Linked DNA regions of Homo sapiens: regions 1 and 3 are each linked to region 2. The links come from fine-mapping of genetic effects on gene expression. A gene starts in region 2. Each other region holds a variant in brackets. All regions are shown on one strand. Distances are from middle to middle.

Region 1 (7,932 bases), 36 kb before region 2:
GATAAATATTTCTTGAATGAATAAATGCAGAACAGGAGTCCCAAACTCACACAGCCCCAAACCCAAACAAGCATGAGCCAAGGTGTAGGCCAATGGGGACATTTGGCACTTGAGCTAACTCTCCTTTCAGCATTTTCCATGGTTCTGGTCCACCTTGAATTTCCTTACTGGCAAAAGCTTCTGTTTGAAACGCAGATGAAGTCCAAGTTTCTTCTTGTTCCAGATGTGCTGCTTCAGAGGGTGCCCTACCTGGCTGCCCAACTCATCGCCAGAAACAGTATTTGCCAGGGTATCATCAAGAAGGGACAGTGAACCTCAGTCTAGCCAAGTCTATACTCACAATGTTCTGGATTATGAAAGCCCCAAATAGCATTTAAAATACAAACAAAATTGGCCAGGTGTGGTTAATGCCTATAATCCCAGGACTTTGGGAGGCCAAGGCAGGAGGATCATTTGAGCCCAAAAGTTTAAGACCAGACTGGGCAACATAGTGAGACCCTGTTGCTATAAAAATTTTTTAAATTAGCTGGGTGTGGTGGCGTGTATCTGTAGTCCTAGTTACTTGGGAGGCTAAGGTGGGAGAATTGCTTGAGCATAGGAGTTCGAGGCTGTGGTGATCTGTGATCACACCGCTGCACTCCAGCCTGGGTGACACAGGAAGATCCTGTAGATAGGTAGGTAGGCAGAAAGATAGATGCATAGATAGATAGATAGATAGATAGATAGATAGATAGATAGATAGGAGGGAGTAGTCAGAATGATCATCAGAATAGTCCTGCTTTCCTATTTGTACTGTTCAGTACTACACCTAGTTGGCCGGGTGCAGTGGCTCATGCCTGTAATCCCAACACTTTGGGAGGCTGAGGCGGGTGGATCACTTGAGGCCAGGAGTTTGAGACCAGCCTGGCCAACATAGCGAAACCCTGTCTCTACTAAAAATATAAAAAAATTAGCTGGGTGTGGTGGCACACGCCTGTAATCCCAGCTACTCAGGAGGCCGAGGCAGGAGAATCACTTGAACTCAGGAGGTGGAGGCTGCAGTGAGCCGAGATCACACCACTGCACTCCAACCTGAGTGACAGAGTGGGACTCTGTTTAAAAAATATATATATATATAATATACCTAGTTGAGTGGTGCTTTTTAAAACATGGGTCACACCTATAATCCCAACACTTTGGGAAGCTGAGGTGGGTGGATGGCTTGAGCCCAGAAGTTTGAACAGACTGGGCGACATAGTGAGACTCTGTCTCTAGAAAAAAAAATAAAAATAAAAAATTAGCCAGATGTGATGGCGCATGGCTGTGGTCCCAGCTACTCAGGAGGCTGAGGTAGGAGGATTGCTTGAGCCCAGAAGTTCAAGGCTGCAATGAGACATGATTGCACCACTGCACTTCAGCCTGGGTGACAGAGTGAGACCCTGTCTCAAAATAAATTAAAATTAAAATAAAATAAATGTCATCCATGATTCACTGTTGACTGTGCTATTTCTTCTGGGTTATTTGCTCAAATGTCACAGAATGTCATGCTTCTGGAAGCCTTAAGCAGGAGGAGTAACATGGACTAATTTCAGCCAGTGAATTCACCCCCACTGCCTTCTCAGAACCATCAAACCCTGGGATATGGAAGAATGAGTGCATTATCTCATCCAGGTAGGACCTGAGAGTATTTTCTGATCTTCTCATGACATTTATGTATCGATTTCCCCTTTGTCGTGAACAATATGGAGATCTTATTGTTTTGAGCAGAGTCACTGCAAGATTAGCAGGGAAAGATGGGCGGGCAGAATCTGATCAGACAGTGACAGCATGAGTTTCTGATTACTAAAATATGTAACATTTCAGACGATACTACGTTTTAGATATAATCGTGTATGTAATTATGGCCAGGCATGGTGGCTCATGCCTGTAATCCCAGCACTTTGGGAGGCCGAGGTGGGCAAATCACAAGTTCAGGAGTTCGAGACCAGTCTGACCAACAAGGTGAAACCCTGTCCCTACTAAAAAAAAAAAAAAAAAAAAAAAAAAAAAAAAAAAAAAAAAAAAAATTAGCTGGGCGTGGTGGCATGTGCCTGTAATCCCAGCCACTCAGGAGGCTTAGGCAGGAGAATCACTTGAACTCAGGAGGCGGAGGTTGCAGTGAGCAGAGATTGCGCCATTGCACTCCAGCCTGGGTGACAGAGCGAGGCTCTGTCTATATACATATATATGTAATTATATAATAATCATGCAATAATTTTACAAAAGATGTCTTGGTGTCAATTCAGTAAATACATACTATTTTGTGTGAAGTATTATGCTGGAATAGAAATGTTTAACAGAAAACTGACATATAAAACAAACTTTTTCAAGGAGTTTATGCTCTGAGAAAAAAGGATGAAAGTATCCAAATAATACTGGCAGATATAAGATTAAGGTAACAGTAAGGGAGGAACAAACTGCCATTAGGGATCCCAAGGACGGAGAGATGACATTCGGCTGCAGGGGATTAAGAATATCATAATGAAAGTTGACTGGAGCTTTTAGATAAGTTATAGATGGAAAAGAACAGAAAAGACATTTTCACTGAACATTAGGTGAGCTTATAAAATAACTCTGAAACTATAAGCTAGGACCAGACAGAGTATCTGAAATCACTTCAGTTTCCACTTTTGAAGCAAACATAATCCTTTAAAAAATTAGCTTGGGCTGCTGTTAACACAGCCACAAACTTGGTGGCTTAAACAACAGAAATGTATTGTCTCACAGCTCGGGAGCCCAGAAGTCTGAGATTAAGATGTTGGCAGGGTTGGTTCCTTCTGAAGGCCGCAAGGGACACTGCTCCATGCCTGATCCCTAGCTTCGTGGGGTCTGCCAGCAATCTTGCATTCCGATTGTGGATGCATCACCCCAAGCTCTGTCTTCATGTTCACATGGTGCTCCTTCTCCCTGTGTGCGTTTGTGTCCAAATTTCCCCTTTTATAAGGACACCAGTCATACTGGATTAGTGCCCACCATAATGACTTCATTTTAACATGATTGTCTCTGTAAAAACTATCCCCAAATAAGGTCACATTCTGAGGTACTGGGGGGTAGGACTTCAACCATTCTTTTTTAGGGGACACAATTCAGCCCACAGCAGTAACACACACATTCACACACACGCACACAGTTTCATATAGCATGTGCCTTTTAACATCCCCCCCGCCGCCCCGCACAAGACAGGGTCTCAGTGTCACCCAGGCTGGAGTGCCAGTAGCTGGAACTGCAGGTGTGTGCTACCACGCTCAGTTAATTTTTACTTTTTTTTTTCTTTGTAGAGACGGTGGTTTCACCATGTTGCCCAGGCTGGTCTTGAACTCCTGGGCTCAAGTGATCTATCCCCCTCGGCCTCCTAAAGTGCCGGGATTATAGGCATGAGCCACCATGTCCAGTGCAAGTGCCTTTTAAAAAGTGATGTTGAGAGTCAGGTGTTTATCCTAAATCAGGTCATGGAACACAACAGAAAAAATATAAAAAGAAATGTTCTAGCTCAGTAGCTTCTCATATAGTTTACTGATGTAACTATCTATCTGCCTTCAGACTCCCTCTGTCACAGTCTAAAGATGAACAGGTTGTACCTCAGATTAGAGAAAGTATAACAACTCACTTGTACGAAGCATTACAGTTTACAAAGTATTTCCCCACACTGCATTTCATTTGATCTTCAGTTCTCTCAAGACAATTAAGTCAGCAAGGTAGATATATTACCAGTGAGCATATGAATGAATGAAGTCCAAGAGGGGTTCAGTGAAATATTTTAGGGCCCCACTTTAGATGAATAGAGATGGCAACACAATTCAGGTGTTCTGAATTACAGCCCAGATCTTTTTCATTCCATCAGGATGTACCCAAAAAGAACGAAAGTAGTTATCACTTTTATTTGTTCTTCATTTGGAAAAATTTGTCTGATGCAGCCTACTGAAGAGTGTATTGACTGAAGATTCAGTTCCATTGATAAGATTATCTGGGAGT[T/C]CTTGGTATAGGCAGGAGGGGAGTTGTAATTAAACAACTGGCAGTGGTATCACTATGGGACTGACGGGCGGAAACAAAGAGCCGCCTCTACTCACTGAGCTAAAGGCTACCTTCATAACTATGAAAACAACATAGAAGTCAGCTTCGTATTTTTTATGGGACTGAGTCGACTCTTACCTGGTGGCAGATTGGTTTAGAAGCATGAATCTTGGATTGACTTATTCAGATGTTAGTCATATTATTTGTAGACCATCCATCAAAGGTCTTGCTTGTTTCCTTTTGGAATATTTAAAATACAAAGATTCTAATTCAATCCAGCAGAAAAAGCCCTTGTGCTGTAAATATAGGTAAATAACTGGGTCCAAAAGGGCACACCTATCTGTTTTTTTAATTTTTGTTGCTTTTCCTTTTTCAAAAATGTTAACATAAAACAATGTTTCTATTTATTGAGAAAAAACATTTACCAGGACCCATGCTCAGCACTTTACATCAACCTTTCCAGACCATCCCATTTTACAGAATAAAGGTGAGGCCCAGGCTAGGTGGGGGGCTTCAGTCATGCTGGAATTTGAACCCAGACCTTTCTGACTCCATAGAACATTCTTTTATTTCTTTTTATGAGGGGAGGTGGGAAGGGAATGGGGTGTTGACAGCTTTACAGAGATGTAATTCACATTCCATATAATTAATCAGCTAGGGACTAATAATCCAAAATATAGAAAGAACTCATACAACTCAATAACAAAAATATAATTCCACTTTAAAATGGGCAAAGGACCTACATAGACACTTCTCAAAAGAAATTCAAATTGCTAACAGGTATATGAATAAGTGCTCAACATCTCCAGTCACGACGGAAATGCTAATCAAACCAGGAGATACAGCCTCACACCTGGTAGAATGAATCGTATCAAAGGTCAAAGATAAGTGCTAGGGAGGATGAAGAGAAGAGGAAGCGCTTGTATGCTGCTGTTGGGGATGTAAATTATGGAAAACAATATGGAGGTTCCCCCAAAAAATTGAAAATAGAAATATCTGGGTATATACCCAAAAGAATTGAAATCAAGGTTGCAAAGAGATATCTGCACTCCTATGTTCATTGCAGCATTACTCAACGTCCTTTGATGAATAAAGATAGGGTTTATAAAATTACAATTACATACTGCTCAGCCTTATAAAAGGAAGAAATCCTGCCATTCAGAACATGGAGGACATTATGCTGAGCAAAATTAAAATAGGCAAGACACAGAAAGAGAAATACTGCACGATCATCTCACTTGTATGTGAAATCTGAGTCCAATTCATAGAAGCAGAGGGTAAGATGGTTGCCAGGGGCTGAGGGAAGGGGGAAATGGAGTGATATTGGTCAAATGGTACAAAGTTTCAGTGATACAAGATGAACGATTTCTGGATATCCAATGTCCAGCATGGTGATGACAGTTCAGTACTGTATTACATACTTGTAATTTGTTAAGAAAGATCTTATATCTTCTCATCACACATACATACACAATACATACATAATGGTAATTATGTAGAGGTAATGAAGATATTAATTAGCTTGATTATAGTGATAATTTCAGAATGTATATCAAAACATCAGGTTGTACATCCTAAATATATACATTCAGAGGTTTCAAGGAGAAAACAAGACTTTAAATTATCTTTAGTTATTGCTAACGTGTCTTAAAATAGTCGTGACGAATGGTTATAAGTAGTAACCATATAAGCAAGCAGTCCTGTCAGACTGTTCCAGCACAGTATTTCAGCTCACTGCTTATATACAGGTGGTAGGGTTCAGTACAGTGCAAAATCACATCAAACTTGCTCAAAAGTTACATTCAAGCAGAATCTCATCAAGGTTTAGGTGTAAGAGTACATCTGGTTATGGATTACAGAAGCATAATCACTAATCCCATCAGACATCTCATGTGTAAGAAAAGGCAAGGACTGGGGTCATTTAAGGAATGTAGTGACTCAGGCAAGCGATGTGGGGGTGCCCTGTGCCCTGTTTTGTCTTCAAGGCATCTTTCCAGAGAGTTGCATGTCGTCACAGGGTCAGGGGCTTTGTGAAATGATGCTGGCAGGCAGAAATGAGCAGACCTGGGTTCTTTTTGCTGCTTTGTCTCACTCCACCACCTGGCTCAGCTCTCTGCATGTAGTCAACACTGACTGCACTGGGAGGCCATACAGATACTACATGAGAGTGTGATCTTTGGAACCACATTGATTGGGTTGGGATCCTGGTGCCAACACCTATGAGCTGTGACCTTGGCAAGTTACTTCATCTCCAATGACCTCATTTTCTTTATTGGTAAAATAGGAATAATTCATAGGACTGTGGTGGTTTTACAATGAAAGGTAAAGCCCAATTTTAGCTATTACTGTTATTCATGGAAGCAGCTTAAACATCAGTGGACCTAAAAAAAGTTTCACAGGTGACTTGCACTACTCTTACTGAACATTTGATAAGAACATTTGATGTAAAAATGTTGAGACAGCTTTGTATGGAAACCAAGAATCAAAACTACTCATTTCTTTTATTCTCACCTCCATTTTCTTAGAGATCAAGAGAAATCATAGTCCTGTTTTATAGCTTTTGACTAAAAGTTTCAGGAAGTAGATCTTGGCCTATGCTTTCAGATTTTTTCCACATCGTCTGGGAATTTCATTGCTAGAGTATTGGTCTTATACAGAACTCCTACACAACCGAATTATGGACTCCCTATTTATGTGGAAGCTTTAACTTGGTTTATTTTGGCTCTGTGGAACACCTACTCATTTTACATGTACTTTCTAAGTGCTTCTTTATTGATAGACCTTTCTTACTAAGTAATATTGAAATATAAACTATTGACAAAGCACAATTTGCCCCCTAACCTTCTTGCAGATGGTTTAGAATTAGTAGGACTATAAGCCAAAGGGAAATGTGTGTCTCGCCATCTAAATATTAGACTTGCTCTGAAGTTAGTGAGTCTTCATGGAACTCAATTACTAGTTATTCCAGCAGTAAATGTAAAAGCCAAGACATTTCTGAAGAAGCACTTATTCTACCAATTATTCCAACATATTATAAAGCTCAGCTCATGTTCCAGGAAAGTTGCTGTTGGCTTCTGGCCAGGTTTTCCCCATGGGTTTACTGTGTGACTCAGGGACACTATCCCACCGGTGAGTTTCCTCCAGTGTCCAGTCAAATACCGCTGCATCCTCATTTCCAAGAGAAAAAGGAGAGGGGATGCGTGAGTTCTTTTTCTCCAAGACAGAGTCTCGCTCTGTCACCAGGCTGGAGTGCAGTGACATGATCTCAGCTCACTGCAGCCTCCGCTTCCCAGTTTCAAGCGATTCTCCTGCTTCAGCCTCCCAAATAGCTAGGACTACAAGCGCGCACCACCAAGCCCGGCTAATTTTTTTTTTGGTATTTTTAGTAGAGACAGGGTTTCACCATGTTGGCCAGGATGGTCTCAATCTCTTGACCTCATGATCTTAGACTGCTGTGCCAGGCACCAAAAAAGCCGAGCCCTTTAAAGTTAGGCCAGTGCCAGCTGAAAACAGCCAGCCCACTCTACTGCTATGACCCAAATTAGTCCTCTAGAGTCAAAGGTCTCTCTCTAGCAGGAGGTTATTTTGCCCCAAACTGTCATGTCTTTATACTGAAAGAGTCTTTTTGTTTTTTTTTTTTTTTTTTTTTGAGACAGAGTCTAGTTCTGTCGCCCAGGCAGGAGTACGGTGGTGCAATCTCGGCTCACTGCAACCTCCACCTCCCGGGTTCAAGCAATTCTCCTGCTTCAGCCTCCCGAGTATCTGGGATTACAAATGCCCGCCACTGCGCCCAGCTACTTTTTGTATTTTTAGTAGAGACAGGGTTTCACTGTGTTGGCCAGGCTGGTCTTGAACTCCTGACCTCATGATCCACCCACCTCGGCCTCCCAAGTGCTGGGATTA
Region 2 (7,932 bases):
ACTGACAAAACACCTCGTCCTTAAAACATCCCTTATTTACCTAAAGGAGAGAACTGTTCTCAGGCTAAGCTCCCTTCTATCGCTCAAGCTTTCACAACTGAGATTATAAATTGACTTTAGATAACTATACCTAAATGTTTGGAAAATACTTTTGTCTTCCAACCTAGCCTAGCTACCTCAGGAAAAGTTCTCCTCTCATTTCATTCTTTAATGAGCAAAAGATAGTCTTACTTGATCCTGATGACTTTAAGAAAAAAAAATTGTCAAGGAAAACACATTTTTACATGGAATAGAGATGTACAATAAAGAACTAGTGTCATCAACCTAACTTCTAATATGCTACTCAAAGAATCTGGAAACTTATCAATCTGTCAACAAGTATTTTTTGGGCACCACTGTGTCCCAAGCACTATCGCAGGTACTCATCATACAGCTTCAATCCAGACTGGCCCTGTCTTCAAAGTTTTTATTCTAAGGGGGTTGCTGGGCATGCCCTTCAAAAAGCCAAAAGATATCTACCAGCATAAAAAATAAATAGAACAATTGTTAGGCAATTTTGTTTTCCTATTATGGTTAATTACCAGCACAATGTCAATATTAATTGCAAGTATTTTCTCATTGCAGACCAAAAGTATTTTCGGTTTAACAGGCTATCCATGACATATAAAATATTCCTAAGCATGTAAATTTTGGTCTTTGGTCTTAAACCTATCTGCTTGCAGACTGACTCAGACTTTCTATAGAACACTGGTAACAGAAACATACCCAAGTATGACTTAACTATAGGAAATTTAAATTACTAGTTTGTTCCCTACCAGGGATGCGGTAGCACTACCTCTGAAGTATCATTCATTCAAATCTGCCTTAAGCCATGTGCATTAATCTAGCAAAAATAAAATGAGGAGAGGAAAGGCACTATTATTTTTCAACACTCATTATGCATGAGATACTATGCTAGGTACTTTACATATATTGTCTCATTTTTAAAAATGCATCTCAGTCGTTAAAAGTGTAAGCTTTGAGATCAGACAAACCTGGATTTGACTCCTGATACCACTTAAGAGTTTAATGTCTTTGAGATTCAGTTTCATCCTACCTAAACTGCCTAGCATAAAAATTTATTGAGAATTTACTGAGATCATTAAATGGGATGATACTTAGATCAAAAGAAAAAAATGGAAGCGAAATTTTAGGAGCCAAGGAATCTCTGTCAAGGGGAGAAAAGGCTGGGCAAAAAAACACATATTTAAGGGCAGTAAGTAAAATGCTGGTTCAAATGTAATCCCAGGACTATACCACTCAATATGCCAGCATACAGATAATAGCTTCTTTTATTTATACTTATATTAAATATATTCTTATAGGGAATTTATCCCATAGAAAAACATACTTGCATTTATATTAGATAAAAATGGGGGAAATTTTATCCCATAGAAAATCATGCTTGCATTTACATTAGATAAAAATGGGGGAAAATGCTCTTTTATCTAGGCCGGGTGCAGTGGCTCATGCCTGTAATCCCACCACTTTGGGAGGCTGAGGTGGGCAGGTCACTTGAGGTCAAGAGTTCAAGAACAGCCTGCCCAACATGGTGAAACCCTGTCTCTATTAAAAATACAAAAACTAGCCAGGCGTGGTGGCTGGTACCTGTAATCTCAGTTACTCGGGAGGCTGAGTAGAATCACTTGAACCTGGGAGACAGAGGTTGCAGTGAGCCAAGATCTAGCCACTGCACTCCAGCGTGGGCAACAGAGCAAGACTCTGTCTCAAAAAAAAAAAAAATCTATTACACGATCAATTCTATTCGAAATAATTTCAATGCAATTCAACAGCAACTTCTTGAACACTTCCTAGGCATGTTTTCCTCAATGGCAGAGACCATATCTTCACCTATGACTCCCCAATATTTAATCAATGCCAGAGATAAAAGTGCTCAGTAAGTATTACTGGAAAAAATGTGTATCTAGCATAATACAGACTATCTATTATTAATCCAAGGGCAAAGAATTCTAAAAGAAAAAAGATTTCTTTTGGCTTTTAGCCAAAAAACCCTCCACATATTCCTCTTGAAAATTAAACCAGTCTGGTTATTCATTTTGTATCCCTATTGAATCTTACCACCTCCTTAAAGTTAAAATGGCTCAATGTTATTATTTTACTTACCCACAGTTTCTACGTATGTTTGAAGCCAAGGAAAATGCATTCCTGCACCACTGAGCACAGATGTTTCCACTTCTTCATCATCTGTCACAGGCCCTTTTAATTCTTCACTGAAATCACTCATACCTATTACAAGATGAGATATCAGTTACTTTCTGTACATCTTAATCCACAGTCTTCTGAGTTGTACAGAAAAACGGCTATCTTTTTATCTAATAAATATAATTTGATTAGCAAAATGCATTATACCTGTCAGCTCTTTTAAAGTAAAAAATGAATTTAACTATGTCAGCAACAGCCAAAATGAATGATCCATTAAAGACCGAACCACTAATGTTTCAAGTCCATGTAAAGATAAATAAGATACTGCCCCTCTAATTTAAAAAATCTCAAGTCTAGACGAAGAAACAGCAAAACGTATAATAACAAAACAATATGAAAAGTACAGTAAGAATAGAAGTAGCAGCTAATATTTATTAGGCCCTTACTATGCACTAGAAGTATAAATTATCTAATTTAATCCCCACAGCAATCCTGAGGTGGGTACTATTACTTTCTTCCATGTGAAGGTTGAAAAAACTGAGGGGCTTAGTGAAATGATGGAACCTGCCTAACATCACAAAAAATGGTGAGGACGATAGTCTAGGAAATAGAACACCAAACTACTTGGCATGACTAGAATTCGAGGTGCGTGTGGAGGAGGGGTGCGGAAGGTGAGAAACGAACCTAGAAAAATCATCATAAGCCAAGGTGAGTTTAGACTTACTCCTAAAGATGCTCAGGGCCCCTTCCTCATTACCCATATGAAATCGAGTATTAGTGCCCCTGATACTACCTCCAAATTTCCCCTATTTCCCCTCTTCAATCCTACAGCACTACTCTAGTTCAAGACCCCTTCAAACAGTGCCTAGATTACCGCATCAGCTTTCTAAACAATTACCCTGGCTCAGATTTTGCATCTCTGCATTATACCCAGAGTAAACCTTCTAAATTCAAAGCATGTGGCTAGGAGTATGAATTATAAGTAACAACTGAATTTGAATCCGACCCATCACGTGTTTTCAGGAGTAGTTACACAAATCCTCCCTTTCCAAATCCTCAAAAACCCAAATTGGTGACCCGCAGTTGCCACGGCAACCAAAGCTTCTCTATCCCCTTCTTTCGTTTTCAGACCCCAAGGGTTTCAGGTATTAGGAGGAAATATCAGGAGAACATGGATGAATCCTGACACACCCCTTCCCGTTCCATTTAAACGCAGGAACCACGGGCGATATCTGCGGCACTTACCCGCCTAAATTTAGAGCTCCTCAGTAAAGCTAAACTCAGTCTCCGACTCCGGCCCACGTGAAGAAATTCCCACCGGAAGACGAGTTAGGAGAGCTTTATATGAGCAGGCGCTAAACCTGGTTTAGGTATTTAGGCAGCGCGCGGCCCGGCTCGTAACTCCTCCTGCTGCAGCAGGCGTATCGTTGGCCTCGCCTCGACCCCGGAAGTGACTTCTGGAAGTGACCCAGGAAGTGACAGTGAGCTGCCTCTCTGCGATTGGTTTTGCCCGAGTTTTATTTTTGTCTGTCTCAGCTAGAAAGTGGGAGACTTTCATTTAAAATGGAAATTGGGGCGAGGGGTTGGCGGCTGGGCGAAGGGAGCATTCAAAAGCGGAGAATGTCACTTTACCCGAGAAATTCACTACGATGGGCCATTGGTTTCTGCTCGGCTCGCAGGCGCACTGCACGAGTGGAGGTGTGGCTAGTGGCTGTGATGAGATAAATCCATGCATAGCCTTTTCATTGCGAGCTTGAAAGTTCTTTTCTATTACAGTTTTAGCTTTAGGTTTAATTGGTTCGACTGCCTTCTCCACAATTTGGGCGAGAATTTCCTTTGCCTTCTCAGCAAAAGTTGTTCTGCGGACCCGTCTGGGTCAACTTTCATGAGGGACATTGAGACAAACAAATGAAATATGGGTTAAAGGTAAGATGGTTAAACCGTGTGAAATGAGAGACAGTTGAGGGGTTCTAGGGAAGATGATCCCGGAAAAGGACTGCAGGCCCATGGAAACGCAGTGTGCTTCTCCAATATTTGGAGGGCTGATCAGTGAAAGAAGGATCAGACCCTTTTTCTTAGCAGCAGAGAACAGAACTAGGACTAATAAGTGAAAGGTAAAGGGAGGCTGCTTTCAAGTCACAGCAAGAAAGAATTTTGTCCACAAATGAGGATGCACAAATATAGCATAGGCTCCCCCAGGAATCACTGAGTTTCCTCTGTGTAGGTGAACAGTTTGAGTAGAATCGGAGTATCGGAGAGGAAATTAAAGGGTCTGGTAAGAGTTTGAGGCCGGGCGCGGTGGCTCATGCCTGTAATCCCAGCCCTTTGGGAGGCCGAGGCAGGCGGAAAGTTTGAGCTCAGGAGTTCGAAACCAGCCTAGTCAACATGATGAAACCCCGTCCCTACAAAATAAAAATAAAAAAAAATAAGCTGGGGTGATGATGCATGCCTCTAGTCCCAGCTACTCGGGAGGATGAGGTGGGAGGATCACCTGAGCCCAGGGAGGTCGAGGCTGCAGTGAGCTGTGATCACCCTACTGCACTCCAGCCTGGGCGACAGAATGAGACCCTGTCAAAAAAAATTTTGTACATGGATTCCTTAAAATGCTACAAATAGTTGATTCTATGTTGTCTTCTGCATAAAACAATATGCAGTAGTTAAGGACTTGCAAGAAAAGTTCCTTCTGCTGCTCTCTCTGTCATTAGTTCTTGAGTCCTCACTCAAGCTTGTGCTCTAACTCTACAGGCAGGGCTAACATAAATTATGCGTAGTCCAGGAGACCACACACAAAATAACATACATAATCATTACTTTCTTGTCTAGAGGCTTAGTCTGGCTACTTTTCTCCCATTGGCTTGAGGTGTAAATTCACCAAAACCAGCCCAGAAATGATTTTACATGGAAAAAAGTTTATGTTCTCCCGAAAATGAGGAAGAGCTTTCAGATTTTCCTCGAAGTTCTCAAACAGCTCTAAGGAGCAGTAGGAAACGTGCCCTACCTATGCTTTTTCTTTCCCATGCTGCAATTCTGACAGAAAATGTGTTGGAGAGAAGAGATAAAAAAAATCAACTAGATCACATCCAATAGCATAAACAAGAAGGAAGGAGGGAAGGTTGCCGTGGCAGGCATCTGTAGTCCCAGCTACTCCAGAGGCTGAGGCAGGAAGATCGCTGAGCTCAAAAGTTCAATTCCATCCTGGGCAACATAGCAAGACCATGTCTCAAAAAAAAAAAAAAAAAAGGCATGACAAATATGAAAACATAAAGCATGCAAAGACTTTTCTAGATTTCAATCTATAAGAAAACATGTCCTAAGAAAAACATGTTCTTACAATTACTTTGTGCTACAGAGCAACTTAATATGGTGATGAATTATGTTGTTTTTAAAGTTGCAAACTGTCATTTAAGGAATATTATTTCCATGAACGCTTCCTGTGCAATCTATTAAAGAACAAACTTCACATAGCCAAACAGTTGAAGAGACCTCATCATAAATAGACTATCCTATATCACAGCTAACGAGAATAAAAAAGGAATGTGGCATGAAAGCATAAAAATAAAAACATCTCAGATAATAATATAGAGAAAACCAAAATACATGGGCTAGAATTCCACCCCAGGGACTGTATCCTCAAAGACACAGGTTTTTCTTCCTTTTTCTTTTTTTTTTCTTTTCATGTTTCAGTACTCTGAGCAGCTACAAAAAGAAGACCAGTCTATCCTGCTGGAGACAGTGGCCACGTGAAGAAAGAGCTCTTGCAGTATGAAAGACCACATGGAAAGAGAGGCCACATGGAACCAACAGTCAGCATCTTGGTTTCGGACACGTGAAGAAATTCATCTCAGACTGTGTATCCTAAATCAGGCACTTGCTGAATCTAACTACATGAGTGAGACCAGTTGACAACACATGGAGCAGACATGAGCTGTTCTCAGTGAGTCCTACACAAATTCCTGACTCACAACACTGTGAGCAATAAAATGGTTGTTATTTTAAGCCACTGAAGTTTGCAGTGATTTCTTACATAGGAATAGATAAATGAAACACAAACATTGATCATTTGCATCTTCTATCTTTTTTATGACTAGTCTTATTGGAAATTACCAGTTTATTTCTGCCATGGTTAGAAAACAAACTCTGAAATTTTGATACTTTAAAATTTTTTTGAGACTTACTGTGCCCAGAATATAGTCTATCTTGGTGAATGTTCTGTGAGCACTAGACAAGAATATGTATTCTGTAGTTATTGAGCATTGTGTCCATCAATGTCAACGTGATTAAGGTGGTTAATAGTTGTCTTCAGATCTTCTATATTGTATTGATTGTTTTATGTGTAGTGTTGCTATTAATTATTGATACAGGAGTGTAAAACTTAAACTATGGCTGTGAATTTGCCACTTACTTTAGTTTTGTCAGCTTTTCTTTTGCATTTTTGAAGCTCTGTTATTGGGCATATAAACATTTATGGTTCGTGTGTCTTCCTGATGAATTGACCATTTTATCATTATGAAATGTCTTTATTGCTGATAATACTCCTTATCTTGAAGTCTAATTCATCCGATATTAGTATAGCCACTGCAGCCTTCCTAGCTTACTGTTTACTGGTATATTTTTATCCATGTTTTTACTTTCAACCTGTGTTTTTTAATTTAATGTGCTTCTCTTATAGACAACAGATAGTTGAGTTTGTCTATCATTTTGCTATTTGTTTTCGATTTGTCCCATTCAGTTTTGTGTTCCTTTGTTCTTTACTTCCTGCTTTCTTTTGGGTTAATTAATGTTTTTATATTTCATCTTAATTCCTCTGTTGGCTTTAACTGTATCTTTTTGCATTATTGCTTTACAGTGTTTCTGAGAATTATGATATACATTCTTAACTTATCACAGCCTTAGAGTTAAAATTATGATACTTCATGTAAAATAAAAGAGCCTTGCAATAGTAAAGTTCTACTTACCACCTCCCCAAGTCCTTTGTGCTTTGTTGTCATATATATCATATCTATGCACATTGTTATTTTTGCCTTAGTCATATGTATCGCAAAGAAATTAAGAGAAGAAAAGTATATATTACCTTTTGTGTATTTACCTACATTTTGCTATTTCCAGTTCTTTTCATTCCTTCCTGTTTGTGGTGAATTATCTTTAAGAATAGCTGTCAAAAAGTATTCACATTCTTGTATGTGCATGTTGCTTCTCCCTTTAAGAAATAGAATCAGCTGGGCATGGTGGCTCACGTCTGTAATCCCAGCAATTTGGGAGGTCAAGGCAGGTGGATCACAAGGTCAGGAGTTCAAGACCAACCTGAACAACATGGTGAAACCCTGTCTCTACTGAAAATACAAAAAAAAAAAAAAAAAAAAAATTTAGCTGGGCGTGGTGGCACATACCTGTAATCCCAGCTACTCAGGAGGCTGAGGCAGGAGAATCACTTGAACTTGAGAAGCGGAGGTTGCAGGGAGCCAAGATTGCACCATTGCACTCCAGCCTGGGTGACAGAGCGAGACTCTGTCTCAAAAAAAAAAAAAAGAAATAAGAAATAAAGTCTGTGTTCCCACCCCTTGAATCTGGGCTGGTCTTTTAACTTTGATGAACAAAACATGGTGAAAATGATGTCATACCAATTCTAGGCCTAGCCCCTAAGAAGCCATACACCTTTACTTTTATCCTCTAGAAAGCTGGCCAACAAATAAGTAAGTTTAGGGTAGATTACTAAAGAATGAAAAACATTTC
Region 3 (7,932 bases), 40 kb after region 2:
CATCTGATTGTTTTGTGAGTTTTAGAATTTATAGTAATTGATGTCTGCTTTCATTCAAAAGTCTTTGAGTAGCTCTTTGGAGTTGCTGCAGAGCGTGCAAGCTGCTGGGCTAGGGCAGTTCTTAGAAGAGATTGGCAGAGTGAAGTCACAGAGCTATTGCTATGCTTAAAATTTCTCGACGCTCTCAGGGGTTATATAGTCAATCGTATTGCCTGTTTGGCTTCACTCCTGATGAAGAGACTGCCCGGGATTTGAGTGTGAGACAGCAATTCATTGGTCACAGAGACCTGACCTGTATACTAATTGTAGTTCCCACTGCATGATTCCCTTAATATTAAAAAAATTGGCTCAGAAGTGTGCATGATGGAAAGAGGGAAGTCATTCATCTCCAGTACACAGGACAGTTCTCACCAGAAGATTGTGAATGTTTAGTTAGGGGAAGAAAGTTATCTTTGTTGGTTTTTTAACTTTTCCATCATTTTATGGCTCCTTGTATGTCAATTTGCTTACTGGTGGAGGAAGGGAAAAATACAGATTTACTTGACAGTCCTGAAAGCAGATCTTAGTGACTGGCTAGAATCCTTATTTGGAGTTAGGTACCTACCTTACTGAATCTTGTTTTCAAGTTGTTCTTGTGGCAGTATGAAAATGGGGAGCCTCCTTTACACCATTCTTTGTTCTCTTACATTTTTATATCTCATGCACCTGTATCTCAGTAAGTTCCTTCTGAAGCTGATTTCTTTCCCAGTCCAAGGAAAATATGAGCCCCAAATCCATGTAGACTGAGAGCCTGACAGCCAGGTGATTCTGCCTGTTTCTGACTGGGTGAGCAGAGAAGTATGACATAGAGGGCACAATGTAGAGAAGCTGATGGTCTTTCAGCTCCTCCTGGATGGGTTATAAGGTGAATTCCCAGAACATCAGGCATAGATGATGGGAGTTGGGGAACCCAATAAATGACACCTTACTTTTCCCCACCTGTGCTCAAAACAAAATTGAGAGACCCAGGAGTTGGGCAAATAGGAGATCAAAATGACCCCATTATTTACTGATAAAGCTGTTTGGAGTATGCAGAAATAATGGGCTTTCTAACATTGCGGTCTAAACTAAGATGGACTTATCCAGTCACAGACAGAGCTATCCAATAGGGGTCTCCCCAGGTGGGACTGTCCCTGTAAAACGGACAGCATGGAGGAACAGAATATGTGTTTCCTCTCCAGCAGGTCCCAAACAGAAAACAGGATTGGGACTGAGCAAACTCACCAGCCACATGAATCATTCTTCCCCTGGGGAAGAGAGAATGAAGGGAAGCCAGGAGTATTACTCAGATGGGAAAGTGGGTTCCAGCCTCCTATCCACCCACTGCCCAAGAACAGTCAGTGCCCAGTGTTGACGCAAAAGCTCCTCTAGAGCCAAACGTGAATTCGAGATTATCTCAATCATTAACGTGGATAAGACTTTGCTCTGGTGACACTTGGCTATTGACAGACTAATGTTTTTCTTTTTCTTACAGGAGACGGATTTTGTTTGTTTTGATGGAGGAAGAGATGATTTTCATAATTATAATGTAGAAGAACTTTTAGGGTTTTTGGAACTGTACAATTCTGCAGCTACAGATTCTGAGAAAGCTGTAGAAAAAACTTTACAGGATATGGAAAAAAACCCTGAATTATCTAAGGAAAGGGAACCTGAACCTGAACCAGTAGAAGCCAACTCAGAGGAAAGTGATAGTGTATTCTCAGAAAACACTGAGGATCTTCAGGAACAGTTTACAACTCAGAAGCACCACTCCCATGCAAACAGCCAAGCAAATCATGCTCAGGGAGAGCAGGCTTCATTTGAATCTTTTGAAGAAATGCTGCAAGATAAACTAAAAGTGCCAGAAAGTGAAAACAACAAAACCAGCAATAGTTCTCAGGTCTCAAATGAACAGGATAAGATTGATGCCTATAAACTTTTGAAAAAAGAAATGACTCTAGACTTGAAAACCAAATTTGGCTCAACAGCTGATGCACTTGTATCTGATGATGAGACAACCAGACTCGTTACTTCATTAGAAGATGATTTTGATGAGGAATTGGATACTGAGTATTATGCAGTTGGAAAGGAAGATGAGGAGAACCAAGAAGACTTTGATGAGTTGCCATTACTTACCTTTACAGATGGGGAAGATATGAAAACTCCAGCAAAGTCTGGCGTTGAGAAATATCCAACAGATAAAGAGCAGAATTCAAATGAAGAGGACAAGGTTCAGCTAACTGTGCCCCCTGGCATCAAAAATGATGATAAAAATATACTAACAACCTGGGGGGACACTATCTTCTCTATTGTCACAGGAGGTGAAGAAACAAGAGATACGATGGATTTAGAGAGCTCTAGTTCAGAGGAAGAAAAAGAAGATGATGATGATGCATTAGTCCCAGATAGCAAACAGGGGAAACCACAGTCAGCAACAGATTATAGTGACCCTGACAATGTAGATGATGGTCTTTTTATTGTAGACATTCCTAAAACAAATAATGACAAAGAAGTAAACGCAGAACATCACATTAAAGGAAAAGGGAGGGGAGTTCAGGAATCCAAGAGGGGCCTGGTACAAGATAAGACAGAATTAGAGGATGAAAATCAAGAAGGCATGACTGTGCACAGTTCTGTTCACAGCAATAACCTCAACTCTATGCCAGCTGCTGAAAAGGGTAAAGACACATTAAAATCAGCTTATGATGATACAGAAAATGACCTAAAAGGAGCAGCTATTCATATCTCAAAAGGAATGCTCCACGAAGAAAAGCCTGGAGAGCAGATTTTGGAAGGTGGCTCAGAGAGTGAATCTGCACAGAAAGCTGCAGGGAATCAAATGAATGACAGAAAGATTCAACAGGAATCCCTGGGTAGTGCACCACTCATGGGAGATGACCACCCTAACGCATCCAGAGACAGTGTGGAGGGAGACGCTTTGGTAAATGGGGCCAAACTGCACACGCTTTCAGTGGAGCATCAACGTGAGGAATTGAAAGAGGAATTAGTTCTTAAAACTCAAAACCAACCTAGATTCTCCTCTCCAGATGAGATTGATTTGCCCAGAGAACTGGAAGACGAGGTTCCCATTCTGGGAAGAAATCTTCCCTGGCAACAAGAAAGAGATGTGGCTGCCACAGCCAGTAAGCAAATGAGTGAGAAGATAAGGCTCTCTGAGGGAGAAGCCAAAGAGGACTCCTTGGATGAAGAGTTTTTTCATCACAAGGCAATGCAGGGCACAGAGGTAGGACAGACAGACCAAACTGACAGCACAGGAGGACCAGCTTTCCTTTCTAAAGTAGAAGAGGATGATTATCCCTCTGAAGAACTACTAGAGGATGAAAACGCTATAAATGCAAAACGGTCTAAAGAAAAAAACCCTGGGAATCAGGGCAGGCAGTTTGATGTTAATCTGCAAGTCCCTGACAGAGCAGTTTTAGGGACCATTCATCCAGATCCAGAAATTGAAGAAAGCAAGCAAGAAACTAGTATGATTTTGGATAG[C/T]GAAAAAACAAGTGAGACTGCTGCCAAAGGGGTCAACACAGGAGGCAGGGAACCAAATACAATGGTGGAAAAAGAACGCCCTCTGGCAGATAAGAAAGCACAGAGACCATTTGAACGAAGTGACTTTTCTGACAGCATAAAAATTCAGACTCCAGAATTAGGTGAAGTGTTTCAGAATAAAGATTCTGATTATCTGAAGAACGACAACCCTGAGGAACATCTGAAGACCTCAGGGCTTGCAGGGGAGCCTGAGGGAGAACTCTCAAAAGAGGACCATGAGAACACAGAGAAGTACATGGGCACAGAAAGCCAGGGGTCTGCTGCTGCAGAACCTGAAGATGACTCGTTCCACTGGACTCCACATACAAGTGTAGAGCCAGGGCATAGTGACAAGAGGGAGGACTTACTTATCATAAGCAGCTTCTTTAAAGAACAACAGTCTTTGCAGCGGTTCCAGAAGTACTTTAATGTCCATGAGCTGGAAGCCTTGCTACAAGAAATGTCATCAAAACTGAAGTCAGCGCAGCAGGAGAGCCTGCCCTATAATATGGAAAAAGTCCTAGATAAGGTCTTCCGTGCTTCTGAGTCACAAATTCTGAGCATAGCAGAAAAAATGCTTGATACTCGTGTGGCTGAAAATAGAGATCTGGGAATGAACGAAAATAACATATTTGAAGAGGCTGCAGTGCTTGATGACATTCAAGACCTCATCTATTTTGTCAGGTACAAGCACTCCACAGCAGAGGAGACAGCCACACTGGTGATGGCACCACCTCTAGAGGAAGGCTTGGGTGGAGCAATGGAAGGTGAGATGCCTATGGCCTTGTAGAACAGGGCTGGAGAAGCAGGTGGGTGGGTCGCTGAGGTGCCTCCTATCTTGTGAAGCTCTGTTCAGTTTCCAATGTGCCTAAAGGAGAGGGACAACACAGGGAGGTCCACATGTTCCTTCCTGCCATCTTTCTTTTAGGCTGGAGCATGGAGAAGAATTTCTTGCCGTTTCCCTTAGAATAGTTGAGACTGGTTAGCATTTTCAAAAGGAAACTTTGTAAAAAGCTAAAGAGAAAGATATAAACCAGAAAGTAATATACAAAATACAAATGTCATGTAAAATTATGAAAGGGTTTTATTGAACACAATTTTTCAGTCGTCAGATAACTGCTCTGTAACCATGGATTGACTGGTATAACTTTTAGATCAATGCCTTGGCTAAATTCCTACGTTCTCCCCAATTTTATCTTTTGTGGATGGCTTGTTCTTCCTGTTTCTTGGGAGCACTTACTCCAGTTAAACCCTCCTGGGCCGTAAGGTTCTTGCATGCAGATTAATCAAGATTGGGACAGGGATGCCTTCGAATGCAGTGCTTGATGCGTGGAAGCCATTCAGTTGAATTAACCCCGAGCCAATATCCTGACATAAGCATTCTGATTCCTAGTTCCTTGTTCTATTCTCTGCATCCAGGCTTTTCTCTTTCTTTTCTTTTCTTTTCTTTCCCTTTGCCCACCTGCCCTTCCTTCCTTCCTTCCTCTTTCTTTTTTTCTTTTCTTTTTTTTTTTCTTAAGACAGGCTCTCACCCTGTCACCCAGGCTGGAGTACAGTGGCATGATCATAACTCATTGCAGCCTCCAACTCCTAGGCCCAAGCGAACCTCCCATCTCAGCCTCCTAAGTGGCTAGGACTACAGGCATGCATCACTGTGCCCAAATAATTTTTATTTATTGTAGAGACAGGGTCTTGGTATGTTGCCCAGGTTGATCTTGAACTCTTGGCCTCAAGTGACCCTCCTACTTTGGCCTCCCAAAGTACTGGGATTACAGGTGTGAGCTACCGCACCTGGTATATCCAGGCTTTTCAGACAGATGTATCTGAATTGAGAGTACCAAGGGGACAGGAAGCCACAGGAAAACGTATTACTCCAGAGTGCTAATTTTTCCTAAGAAATGGGGGAGGAGAACTTTTTTGCATTTAATTAAAACATATATTTTGGATAAGAAGGCAATATTCAGATGAATTTTCAGGGTAAAATATGAGGCTACAAGGAAATTCACCTTTGCTGTGGATCACATTGGACTGTCCCCTAAGCCTCTTAGGAGAGGAGATGGCTTCACTTTGTTTGACTCTTAGAGGTACTTTGAAAGTATTCGAAAGACATCTCAGCAAGCTGCCTTGGCGTGGAATGTCCCTGTCTGTACTAGTTCTGTGAGAAAGGCATGCTAGGGTATGCAAGAGTTCATGTTACTTCTCTGCAGAATAGATGTTTCACATTTCTGCTCTTGAGTGGAATTCTCATTTGCACATTTATTTGTGTGGGTGTAGGCTGATTTGCCAAGGAAAGATGTTACTGAAGTCCCTACCATAAATGTATTTATTTATGAAATACTCCTCTGTAGATTTTATTATGTAGATTAGTCATCCTTTAAATGGAATAAAAGAAACTGAAACTCTTATTTCCCTGCCCAGTTGTGCTCCATGGGATGCCCATGCATGGAGGTCAATGTTGAGGTGCCCTGGTGTGGTCAGTGGGATTAGCCTAACAGGTAGTGTCATCAAGCTGTGCTAGCCCAGTGTATTCTTCTCACCCTAGAGATGCAACCACTGCATGAAGATAATTTCTCACGAGAGAAGACAGCAGAACTTAATGTGCAGGTTCCTGAAGAACCCACCCACTTGGACCAACGTGTGATTGGGGACACTCATGCCTCAGAAGTGTCACAGAAGCCAAATACTGAGAAAGACCTGGACCCAGGTAAAGCCTGCTAATTTTTTTCTACAAAGTGGAGAAATCATAAAGAAGGCCTTCTAGGAGATTCATTGTCAAAGGCAGGAGCTAGAGACTTGTTAAATTCAAAGGAAAAAAGGATCCCAGAGCTAATTGAGAGAAAAGCAGGCGTCAAGACAGATGGAGATCAAAAATAGGAAAGACACCAGAGACTATAACTAACCTACAAACCAATGTTTGGCTGTCACTATCTTGTGTAAATTATTTCAATCTAAAATATTATTCTTAAAAGGCCTTATGCTCTAAAACAGTAGTTTTCAACCAGCCCAGCAGCATCAGAAACTCTGGGGGTGGAACCGGCAATCTGTGTTTAACAAGCCCTCCAGGAAAGACTGACCTGATGCAAATTACAGTTGGAGAACCACTGCTCTAAAACTCACAAATTCTGTTTTTCCTCTACTTTACCCCTCTCTTTCCAAATAAAATACAATGCAATGCAGTTCTTTTTTTTGATTTGCTATCTGGACATGGTAAGTAAAACTTCTTAAAATACAGTGAAGGGGTCCAAGTATGTTTATAGCATAAGCTCATAGGAGACAGTACAGAACACTGTAGTGTGTAATAGTCCAGGATAGACCGACACAAAGAGTATTTCACCACAGTGCACAGTAAACATCCAGTGAGAGATGAGAACGTTTACTTTCCAGGCACAGTGCCTAATATTTAGTGGATACTCAATAAGTATTTTTTAAAGAGAATTCTTATTCTAAAGCACAAAATGTCTATCTTTCCTCCCAATTCCAGGGCCAGTTACAACAGAAGACACTCCTATGGATGCTATTGATGCAAACAAGCAACCAGAGACAGCCGCCGAAGAGCCGGCAAGTGTCACACCTTTGGAAAACGCAATCCTTCTAATATATTCATTCATGTTTTATTTAACTAAGTCGGTAAGTTTAACATAGTTTTTTTTTAACTAAAATGTTGATTATTACAGTTTTTAAGTTGATTTTGAGCATGAGGTGAAGAACTTAAAATGTCTTTATGAACCTGACTCCTGATCCTTTGAAGAGAGACCCTGAAATGAGCCACAGGTGTGTGGCTTTAATGGGCTCTTAGTTCAGCACATGAGGAGGCTTTGCTGCATGCTGGAGCTGGGCACAAGCACACCTGTCAAACGTGGTTCTTCCTTTCAGGGACCTTTCAGTTTAGCCAGGAGAGAAAGACAGTCACTTGAAATGTAACATGATAATGGGCAGGAAGAGAAGTATTTACCTGATGGTAGAACAATCTGTGGCATAAATTGGTTCATCGTGGAGGGAGAGTGATAGGAAAGGCCAGAAATTCGCTGAGATATGCTTTAAGCAGATTCGAAAGAGATGGGAGCTTGACTTGGAGTTGTCAAATAGAAGGGCTAGGGGAAGGATGTGGGCAGGGGGGCGGGCAGCATGCAGTCAGGCAGAAGAAATAACACATTCAGAGAAATGGAGGCATGAAGAAAAGGTTATTTGGGGAAGCCAGGGAAGCGTGGGTAGTTGGTGTTTTTTCTTTTTCTTTTTTTTTTAAATTGAGACAGGGTCTTGCTCTGTTGCCCAGGCAGGAGTGCATTGGCGTGATCTCAGCTCACTGCAACCTCTGCCTCCTGGGCTCAGGCGATCCTCCTGCTTCAGTCTCCTGAGTAGCTGGGATCACAA

What was found. PIP is the estimated chance that this variant, and not a neighbour inherited with it, causes the effect. A credible set is the group of variants that fine-mapping cannot tell apart.
Region 1: its variant is the best candidate, but not a certain one, in a credible set for the expression of TAF1A in testis (GTEx, PIP 0.83).
Region 3: its variant is the best candidate, but not a certain one, in a credible set for the expression of TAF1A in fibroblasts (GTEx, PIP 0.64).

What each region holds. Positions count from the first base shown.
Region 1 is chr1:222,550,224-222,558,155 of GRCh38, forward strand. It overlaps a transcript of TAF1A not described here. Among named protein-coding and RNA genes, the nearest start is that of HHIPL2, 6.1 kb to the left of the region's middle. The variant T/C (reference allele first, on the strand shown) is at 3,991.
Region 2 is chr1:222,586,280-222,594,211 of GRCh38, forward strand. It overlaps TAF1A (TATA-box binding protein associated factor, RNA polymerase I subunit A), which reads right to left and starts at 3,654. Exons shown (of 11, transcript NM_005681.4): 1 at 3,448-3,654; 2 at 2,164-2,286. The coding sequence starts at 2,284. TAF1A-AS1 (TAF1A antisense RNA 1) reads left to right here and starts at 3,641. Exons shown (of 3, transcript NR_110613.1): 1 at 3,641-3,683; 2 at 3,979-4,128; 3 at 5,887-6,354. RefSeq lists enhancers at 3,621-4,154, 4,155-4,687.
Region 3 is chr1:222,626,062-222,633,993 of GRCh38, forward strand. MIA3 (MIA SH3 domain ER export factor 3) reads left to right here. Exons shown (of 28, transcript NM_198551.4): 4 at 1,514-4,328; 5 at 6,104-6,265; 6 at 7,043-7,188. Among named protein-coding and RNA genes, the nearest start is that of MIA3, 12 kb to the left of the region's middle. The variant C/T (reference allele first, on the strand shown) is at 3,523.